Regions from separate parts of the Homo sapiens genome. Here region 2 is linked to region 1. The links come from fine-mapping of genetic effects on gene expression. A gene starts in region 1. The other region holds a variant in brackets. All regions are shown on one strand. Distances are from middle to middle. Region 1 holds the start of ADAMTS19 (ADAM metallopeptidase with thrombospondin type 1 motif 19). Region 2 overlaps ADAMTS19 (ADAM metallopeptidase with thrombospondin type 1 motif 19).

What was found. PIP is the estimated chance that this variant, and not a neighbour inherited with it, causes the effect. A credible set is the group of variants that fine-mapping cannot tell apart.
Region 2: its variant is the best candidate, but not a certain one, in a credible set for the expression of ADAMTS19 in skeletal muscle (GTEx, PIP 0.53).

Annotation. Positions count from the first base shown.
Region 1 is chr5:129,457,866-129,463,251 of GRCh38, reverse strand. ADAMTS19 (ADAM metallopeptidase with thrombospondin type 1 motif 19) reads right to left here and starts at 2,954. Exons shown (of 23, transcript NM_133638.6): 1 at 2,770-2,954; 2 at 1,495-2,150. The coding sequence starts at 2,860. It overlaps ADAMTS19-AS1 (ADAMTS19 antisense RNA 1), which reads left to right and starts at 2,563. Exons shown (of 2, transcript NR_125748.1): 1 at 2,563-2,827; 2 at 3,173-3,693. RefSeq lists an enhancer at 3,033-3,995.
Region 2 is chr5:129,478,726-129,484,111 of GRCh38, reverse strand. All of the region lies in intron 2 of ADAMTS19 (ADAM metallopeptidase with thrombospondin type 1 motif 19), which reads right to left. Among named protein-coding and RNA genes, the nearest start is that of ADAMTS19-AS1, 21 kb to the right of the region's middle. The variant G/C (reference allele first, on the strand shown) is at 2,756.

The DNA of each region.
Region 1 (5,386 bases):
TCAACACAGTGAAATTCTTTATCCCCCATTGCTACTACCACACCAGGAACTTTCTATATGTGATTATTTAATCCCCAGCCAAAAGCTAGTGGACAATGAAATCTCCACAAAATGTTTTCCCCAGTGAAATGTTCAAACATCAGTTCCACATAAAACCTTTTAATAAAAGCTTCTCATGTAATTTTTCCATGCCAATTTTTTTCAATTATGCCTAAAAATGCCCGTATTTGAATATTCATCATTATGAGTACTGTCCAACAGTTTACATCATTTGACTATGGGATCTTGGGTCAGGGGAGGTGGTAGTTTTGGGTGGCTTTGATTGTGCTGATATTTTCTGCTATCCACTGCTGTTGGATTTTCTCCAAATGAGCAGTTTGCTTCCATGCAAGTTCTTGTGGATTTCTCAGTGGCTCACTATGAACAGCAAAATGAAGCCACAAATCACAAGTGCATTTTTGATATTTTATGAGTTTTGTCTTAAACCAATTAATAGTAAAGCCTATGGTGGTGGCAACAACCATAAAGGACATGGTGGTGTTGCACAACAACGTGAATGTACTTAATGCCACGTACCTGTACATCTAGAAACAGTTAAAATAGTAAATTTTATGTTATGCATATTTGACCCCCCCACACACACACACACACAAAGGTCAACTTATAGAAGCTTGTCCCAACCCCTGAATCGTGACAGAGGGAGAAAAATCAAATGATGTTCTACATTGACAGAGCAAATGGCTTTTACTTTCCATCCCAACAGGCCTTTTAACAAGGCTCTCCACCTTGCTCCTTTCCTCCAAAAAGTGGAAAGAAGAAAAGGAACTACTGTCAAATGAAATGTAAATCACAGAACCATAACCCTTTGAACACAGATCGGATTCTAATGTCACCCGTTACTCAACCTCCAGTCTCTCAGTTGAGTCCCTCCCAACTCCTTTCACAAGAACAGTGAACAGGTGTCCAGTATGACTCTGGATGTGTTTAAATTCTAGACAACTGTCAGAGTAATCCCCTATAGAACTGTTCTTTCAACTTTGAAGTAGGTTATGAAAAAGCTCTAAGATAACAGATGAGGAACTGAGAGTGCGGCGCAAACACGAAGGAGATTCATCAGTGAGCCGACTGGTTGTCTTTCGAGTTCCTAAAAGACATCACGTGGAGCGCTTAGTTTGGAAAACTCTGGAGAACAGAAAGAAGTTGAGCCATTGGGAAGAAGTTACGAAAAGGCAGAGTTTCACGCAGTTTTGAAAGACACATAACCATCTGGAAGGAGAAGGCCATTTATCCACCCAATTAAACTTCCGATTTACACAACTGCCCTGGAGATGTTCCATGGGAGGCAAACGATGTAGACACCTGGGGGTGCAGTCTAGGGCCAAGCTCAAAAGGAGCACACTGAAAGGGGAGAAGGTGCATGCAAATCATCCTGACCTATGGGCAAGGAGAGGAGCAGCAGGGGAAAATGGAGAGCTAGGGAAAGAAGGCGCTTACCAGGCCACCTCCACAGGTGCTGAAAGAAGCCAGCGAGCCAGGGTGCCGCAGCACAGCTCCGGTGTAGAAGCAGCCTGCGTCTGGTGGCGCGGGAGGTTGCGGGGCGGATGCTGCCCCCGTGGGGCCGGGGCCGGGATTTGGCCGCTGTTCCACTGCGAAGCGCGGCGCCAGGAAGCGGCCGTCTCTCCGGAGCAGCAGGTACAGGTCCCGAGAGAAGGCCGGGATCCGCAGCAACACTTCGTCGCCATCCGGCTCGGCATGCTGGGCCGGGGGCGGGGACGGGGGCGGCTGCGGGGGAGGCGGCGGCTGCCACGAGGCCGGGGCGCCCGGGGACAAGGCGGCAGCCCCGCTGGATCCCCGCGGCAGCTCCTGCGACTCGAGCTCCTCGTCCTCCTCACCCTCCGACGGCGGCGGGGGCCGGAGCCGGGACTCTGATCGGCCCTCCACGGGCTCCTCCAAAGGCACCGGAGCCACAGAGCGCACCTCGCGTGAGCTGCCGGCAGCCTGCGCCCGGGCGCTTCCGCCGCCCCCAACGCCGCGCACCCAGCCCGGGTCCGCGCTGCCCCCGCTGCCGCCAGCCGGGTCCACCGGCTCCCGGCGCCAGAGCGCAGGAAACACGACTTCCCACTCCTCGCGGTCGGGGGCGAACTGCAGCTCTGCGGGCGGGGCAGACAGAAGTGCGGGGCTTAAAGTGCCGCGGTTCCAGTAGCACAAACATTTCCAAGCTCACAGTCCATAGATACAGGGCGCTCGCGTTGAATGCAATGGAGACCACCCGTCTAGACCCTGAAACTCTGCAACCCCAGAAGCCTTGCGATCAGATTACAGACCCCAGCATTTTCAGAGTAAAAGTACGATTATATTAGGGGCGGGGGAGGGGGAATCAAAGTTTGGTGACCGCACTTCATTGTTGAAAAGAAAACCGATGCAAAGACTCCAGCACGAGTAAACGATTTCTGAAGTGTATGCTAGAGCAGAGCGTTGCTATCAACTTAGGTACGTTCTAATTTTCCTCCAGGTGCTGTAAACGTACCTTTGCAAATATTATTGCTCTAATTAGAAGGAAACTATTCCACATACGGTTAAAACGAGGCCGGCAGAAGTGTGCTTCATTTCCGAACTTGACCCCTTAACCTGCACCTCAAGCTCATTTTTATTGCTACCCACTGAGCCCTGCTCTCCACGCACCGGTTGCACCAGCCCTGCCGACCCGTACGTTCGCGGTCTCCGCTGGGATGGCTGGAAAGGAAGCGAGAAAGTCACGGAAGAACTTACCTGAAACGATCCCATTCGACAGGAACCCCAGCTGGTAAAGGAGGCAGCAGCAGCAGATGTGAGTCAGGCGCATCTCGCGGTTCTTCCCCATACTGCGCTCCCGCGGCCGCGGCTTCTCGCCCGGCGCACGCCTCCAGCGCGATCCACTCCGGGGCGCAGCGGCCTCCCCGGAGCGCTAGGAGGCCGGGCGGCGAATTTGCCCAGGCCCTTTGTCTGCCGGGGGAGGGGGTGTTGGGGTGGGGGGGTAGGCTGTGTGACTCCGGGAGGCCGCCGAAGCCCTGGCGGGGGTGGGGTGGGGTCGGGTTGGGGGAGGAGCGGGGGAGGCAGCCCCGCGGCCCCGCAGCCCTCGAGCTCCCTGGCGAATTAGGAGATGAGTCTATTTTCTGTGTTCTGGACGCTGCAGGAGTTTCCGAGGCCGAGCAGGCTAGTGCTGGAGCCCCACAAGACAGACCCACAGCCAGCCGAGAGCCGGGAGTGCTGCCTCTGGACAGGCAGAGGACTGCCCGGCGCGGGCAGGAGAGCTGTGGTGTCCGAGCCGAGGCTCGCCGCCTGCACCCGCGCGGAACGGGCGGAGGCTGGTGTCACAGTCTCAGCAACTTGGTGTGCCAAGCTCCGCACACTCCTCACGCTCCTTAGGACGCACCGCTGAAGGCTCTCACCCGCAGCGGCGCGGGAGGGAATGAGTAGGGAGATGGGAAGACACGACTAGAGAGGTGGGTTGTAGAGCAGAAAAGAATCAAGCACATCTGACCAGAAAAAGGGACCAAGGGGTGCCCGCCAAGCGTGACTTTGCGGGACAAAGGTCCCAGAACACCGTGCACGTGCTCAAACGCCGGTTGGGATGGGGTGGGGACCCAAAATCCCTCACCTGACTATTGATTGGCCACTCGGGAAGGCCTGATTTGCATCCATCCCCTGCCCCCGTGTGCAGGTAGAGGTGCCTCCCCCTTCCCATCCCACTCCTCAATCCAGCGCCTCTTTTTGTCAAATTCGCACATCACACAAGGCAAAAATTAGTGCAGACTTGACCACAAAACTGAGGCCTCATTTATCAAAGGCCTTTGATTTGTCTTCCCATCTTTTTCGGAATTTTCTAAGCCCGGAGATAATGTAATTCGTCATGGAATATGCTTTAAAGTTTCCCAGGACAGTAGGCACCCTTAGGTTTCAGAGCCTCTTTTCCTTCCTTGTCTTTCTAGCTCCCCATTCATCAGTACTATCAGTTTCTCTCCTTCCCCTACCCCACCCCATTACACACACACACACACACACACACACACACACACACACACGAGTCCTAAAAGGAGTAAGAGTAAGGGAATCAACATTAAACATTATATTCTAAAGATCTCAGACCAGGTGAGATTATTTTGTCTTCTGTACTTTTTACTTGTACATAAAAAAATATGTTTTTGCTGTTTCTGTCCTCTTTGGGGCAATTCAACCCCATATATTTTTTTTTCCTTTGTTGCAATTCTCTTCATGGTACCTACTCCCCTTTCCACAACTCTCCCTCAGCCACATCAAAGCGTTCACATCCGATTTAAGGATGATTGATCTGAACTGCCATTTGCATCCTCTGGACTAGGCCAGACACCTAGAAATGATAATTAATGCAAATCAGTTTTTTTTTTTTTTAATTCCAGAACTGAGGTTGGTTCACCACTTCCTTTGTTATTTTACCTTCTGTTCCTTGTGTCAAAGGTGACTACTATGCCTTTAAGGGAAGCAGACGATCTTATTTCAAAGGAAAGCCATTGTTTGAATTAGCTGAGTCCTATAATACTTTCTTTGAGTTGTCCAGAGTTTAGAAACAAAGGCAAAAACACTCAAGGTGACTTTGTCAAGAGTGATCTGCCTCTAAACGCTGTCTTATAAAATCTCTAATGCTGGAGTAACTAACATGTGGGTTTCCAGATGCTCAAGAAATATCTGGGTTACTTAGAAACCTAAATGCTTTTTTTCATGAGACTCAATTTTACAGATTTAAAGCTAGGCAAAAAATCAGAGGCAGTTTATTTTTTGAGTATAGCAAGCTATTTAGATTGAAAGCTAATTTCAATGAAACACCTCCAGTAGGAGATGAGTCTTAACACGTTTCTCACACATATTTTAACAACAACAACAAAAAGCAGAACTGAAGGAATAATGCATATTAAATTGTATATATTTATTAGAGTACATTCATGATTTTTTAAAACCAAATGAGTTGTATAACTAAGTTAAATATACTCAGAAGCACAGCTTACCAATGTAAGTTTGCATTGCTGCCTTTTTTTCCCACTAATATATAATCTTTACCAATCCTTCATGGTAAAGGTTAATATTGTTATGGAAAGATTTGTCTAATTCCCAGATAACTCTTCTCTTTTTTCCCTTTTGAAATACTGTTATAATTTATTTACATATTTTAGAGACATTTATAAGTCATTTGGGTTTTAATGACTTATGTACTTATTTCTCCTACTAGACTATCAATGTTTTTGAAAGGTAGGAATGATTTCTTTTATATATCACCCTGACTAATTCAAGGATTTACACTGAATAGGTTCAGAAATTATCAGGAAATTCTCTCCAAGGTGCTTTAGAAAGTGATAGAAATTGATTTGTCTATGGT
Region 2 (5,386 bases), 21 kb before region 1:
ATGTAAATTGTGGAAATAAACATTAAAAATTCACGAAGTATGTTTAAATTTAATAACTGTGTTAATATTCACTATGGATAAAGATATGAGGAAAAAGGCACTCTTAACTACAGTTAGTGAGAGTGTAACTTGGTCTAGCATTTTTAGAAGTTGATTTGGCAGAATATATAAAACTTTTAATAACGCAAGCCCTGTGTCTCCCCACCCCCCATTCAAAGACATCATTTTCAGGAATATCTCTTGCAGGCATGCTCACACAGGCATGCAAAGATCTATGTAATTAGTTGTATATTATGAAATTATTGTTATTTGCCTTAGTGTAAAAATGACACAAACCTAAAAGCCTAGCAATATGGCCACCTTTCTTCATGGCCACAACCATGCACAACTGCAGCAAGAGCTACCCATAATGTAATCCATATGAAGAGCATCTTACAGATTTTGGCTGTGCCTATGTCCACTTTCATGTAGTAGTATATCTGACACTAGTTGCCAGGCCCTTCTCCAAAATATTGGTTCTCAACTGGGTGTGATTGTGCCTCCTTCTTCACACACACACATACCAGGGAGAAATCTGGCAATGTCTGCATACATTCTGGGCTGTCACAACTGAGCATCTAGGGGTAGAGGTCATAGATGCTGTTAAATAGCCTACAATGCATGGGACAGCCCCCTACAACAATTATCCTGCCCCAAAATATTATTAGTACTTAGGTTGAGAAACCCAGCTCTGGAATAATTTATTTGCATTATTTCTTTAATCTCACCTATAACCATATGAGGTAGAAAATACTTTTCCTCATTTTAAATATGAAGCAACAGAGACTCAGAGAGATTAAATATCTTATCCAAAGTAACACAGCTAATAGGAGGCAGAGCTTCTTGCTCTTAAAAAGGAAGTTACATAGGAAGCCTAGATAAATTATTGTGTTCTCATATGATGGATTATTATATGGCTGTTTAAAAAAGTAGATGTATACAAATATCATGAAATGATCTCTAGGTCACAGAGAAGATATTTGTAGTGTATACAGCTAATAAAAGATTAGTATTCAAGCTGTATAAAGATCTCTTACAAGTCAATAAACAAGTAAAAAAGTTATGGAACACATATAATATGTAATCCCATTTATATTATATGAGCAAAATTTTGTATGTGAAAAGATTTTGTTATTTATGACCCTATAATACCAAAATATAATAAGAATGGAAGTATCCTAAAAGGATAATTTTGTATAAGTATTCATTTAGAAACTCTCAACACAAAGATAACTGAAGAAATATGTGACATGGGACTGAGCATATGGTGATACTGTGAACATAGAAATGTGAATAAGAAGTTGGTAATAACTAGGAGAATGGCAGGGATGGTCATGGAGTGATATCATGGGACATTATTGATAGCACATGAATCATGACAGGTCTTGCTTGTTATAAGTTCTGTTGTGATATAAACAAGTGCTTAAAACACTTCACTGAATTTTGCAAACATGTATGATAACTCATCTTTGTAGCTCATTAATTTGTATAATTTAGATAATTGATTTTAAATGATTTGATTTTAGATATTTTGACTTTAGCTAATTAATTTGGGAATTAAGAAACCTATTTTCTGGTAGTTCCCTTAATTTGGAGAAAAACAGGTCCAAAATATTGCACATGAAATATCTTCTATTATAAAATATATGGAACAGCAAAAATCCAAAGAGGAAGGTGGTAATTCAAACTGACTCCTTATAAGAGAATTTCATTGACTGGAAGGCCCTTTTTTCTTCTGTATACCTTGACAGATTTGAGATGGAAAGTTTGTTGGGTGAGAGAAGTGAAGAGGTGAATAATTATGCGTGATAGAGGGTGAAGAATTCAGAATATCTGGAAACAACACTGAAAGAAAAGGGGGAGAGCACAGATGGACAGGGAGAAAGCATGGGAGAAAATGAAGTACTAGAAGGCTGAGGTCTTCCAATATATTGTATTTTCAAACACCCTAGTTCTTCATCAAAATTTCCTATAATTCCTAAAAATGACTGGTCTGAAACTATTTTTTGGGAAAGCAGTGAAGTCCTTAAATGTTCTATGCTAGCTGATGCAGAGGAAGCAAAGGCAATGCATGCAGGTGCAGAGTGAGGGAAGGAGCTCAGAAAGGATGTCCATGCTTTTTAACTCCTTACCCCAAGCTTGGATAGAAATCTTGATTCAAGGCCTTAGACACTCGTGGGCTTCAAGGAATTTCCTGGAGATCTTAGGGCAAAAAGGCCTTCAAGTAATACCTGCACTCTATTTATACGTAGTGTGTATAAAGACCTCCATGAAAACACATCAAGCTGCTATCTGAAGTCACCTTTGGGGAGGGTTCGGGAACTGGGGATTCTCTTTCTATACTTACTTCAGTGTTGTTTTACTATTTTACAAAACAATCCTTTAATGTTTTGATTTAAAAGAACTGTCAGACTAGGTGAAATGTGGGCTAAACAAGCAAAGATCACCTGAGATCGCACCACTAAAATGCATTGTTAAGAAATGTAACAGTGTTACTACAACTATTATCAGACTATACCTGTACCTCCAGGTTCAAAAAGATAGGAAACTGTTAAGGACACTTGCTTTTATCCTGGGAGCAAGAGTGTTAATCAGAGGATGGTTAGGTAATCAAGGGTTGCTATGGTTTGGCTCTGTGTCTCCACCCAAATCTCATCTCAAATTGTAATCCCCAGGTGTCAAGGGAGGGGCCTGGTGGGAGGTGATTAGATCATGG[G/C]GGGTGGTTTCCCCCACGCTGTTCTAGTGATAGTGAAGGCGTTCTCACAAGATATGATAATTTAAAAGTGGCAGTTTTCCCTGCACTTGCACTCTCGCACTCTCTGTCTCTCTCTCCTGCCACCTTGTGAAGAAGGTGCCTGTTCCCCCTTCACCTTCTGCCATGATTGTAAGTTTCCTGAGGCCTCCCCAGCCATGCTGAACCGTGAGTCAATTAAACCTCTTTTGTTTATAAATTAACTAGTCTCAGGTAGTATCTTTATAGCAGTGTGAGAACAGACTAATACAGGGGTAAAAGGCTGCACGTTGCTTTTCGTTTGTTTTGGCAAACATATACAGTCATGTAACAACCACTACAATTATTATATAAAATATTTTTATCACCCCTAGAGTTCCTGGTGCACTTTTATAATGAATTATTTTTCCTCATTACTTGGTTTTTGTCAATCACTGATCCACAGTTTTGTCCTTCCTTCTTAGAATCTCATACAAATAGAATAAAATATTATGTAATTTTTGGTGTTTAGCTTCCATCATTCATCCATTTTGCGGAATATATGAGTATTTTTGCTGAGTAGTACTCTACTGTAGGACAATAACACATTATTGTTTATTTTCCAGTTTGAGGCTGTTATGAAAAAATCTGCTGTGAATCTTTGAGAACTTTTATGTGGATATTCACCTTTATTTCTTTCTTAATGACTAATAATATTATCCATCTTTTTCACGAACTTTTTTTCCATCTGGTATCTTCTTTAGTGAACAGACTGCTCAAGCATTTTGCCTATTTTTCATGTTGTCTGCCTTCTTATTAATGAAGATAGTTCTTTACATATTCTGGTAACAAATGCTTTATCAGATATATCTTTTGCAAATATTTTCTCCCACTTTTTGTATTATGTTTTTATATCAGTGTCATTTGAAAAAGAGATGATTTTAATACTTAAGATGTCCAAATTATGTAATGTATTTTTCTTTTAAGGTTGTAGCTTTGTATCCTACCTAAAATATTTTTGGCTTATGTCAAAGTAGTGAAGGTTTTCTTCTAATGATTTATAGTTTATTCAAATTAATGTTTGTGGCTGTTGTGAGGCAGCTGTCAAGATTCATTCTTCCTATATTGATGTCAAATTCTTCCAGCACCATATGTCAAGGACTAGAATTCCTCCATTGAATTACATCGGTAACTTTCTTGAAAATCAACTAGCCATATTTAAGTAGAACTATTTCTGGATTCCGTCTTATGTTCCATATGCCTCTTTGTTCCAATATCAGATTATTTGGATTTTAAAGCTTTAACATTATCACTTCAATAAGATCATGTAAGTTCTCCAACTTTGTTCTTGTCGGAATTGTTTTGGCTTTTCTAAGTTCTCTGGAATTCCATAACTATAAACATATTTGTCAATTTCTACCCAAAAAGCTTGTTTTTTTAAAAAATGAGTGTACCAAATCTATAAATCAATTCAGAAATAATTGACATCTTAAAATTGAGTTTTCTAATTCATGAGCTTTGTATGTATCTCCATTTATGTAGATATTCCTTAATCTCTGTCAATATTTTATAATATTCAAGCAATATTTTACAGTTTTTGGTATACAGGTGCAGGGCATATTTTGTTAAATTTATGTTTAAGTGTCTCATGTTTTTATAGTATTGTAAATGTGCTTATAAAATTTTAATTTATAATCGTTCATTAGTACTATAAAAAAACTCGTATTTGTACATGAAACTTGTATCCCGCCATCTTGCTAAACCTCGCACGTTTGTTTTAGCAGGATTGTCTCTATAGACCATCATGTTTTCTGTGAATAAAAAACAGCTTTGCTTCTTCCTTTACAATCTGAATACCTTTTATTTATTTTCTTGCCTTAGTGAGTTCCTTGCTTCTAGAAGTACTGATGATATTGGACTGCGCCAGGATTATTTTTTAGGAAATCTCCCTAACGTGATAATTTCTTACTTAAAAATTTTAAATATACCAACATCAGAAAGGAAACAGAAAGAGAAAGAGAAGATAGATTACATTACAAATCAGCAAATTTCTATGTTAAATTCTACTATTTCTACTCCTATACTTATTCCACATCAATTTCTACCCCATATCTTGGATCAAAGGATTAAAATGATGTGAATGTGTTATATATCTCTGATAAATAATACTGAAGCAACAAAGTATCTTCATGACATATACAAACATACACACCACACACACATACGGCTTTAAATTTCACCTCTAGGCCTCATCAGCTTCCCCTCTAGGGTGACATTTAATCTCCCTCAGCTTCAGCATCCTTATCTATAAAACTGAGTGACTACACGTACCTTAGTGGGTTTCTGTGAAAAATTTGCCATACCTTATGGCAATATGTATATGGCATATAGCAGTGTTGAATAAACAGTGGCTATTATATTCTGGTCCTCTTTGTTTTTAAAAATCAATGCAAATGAAAACTACAGCGCCTCCATTCATTGATTTTCCTCTTGTGATTTGATTTTTACTAAAGGTAGAGGTGGCCAGGTGCAGTGGTTCATGCCTATAATCCCAGTACTCTGGGAGATGATAAGGAGGATCACTTGAGCTCAGCAGTTCAATACCAACCTGGGTAATACAGAGAGACCCCTCATCTG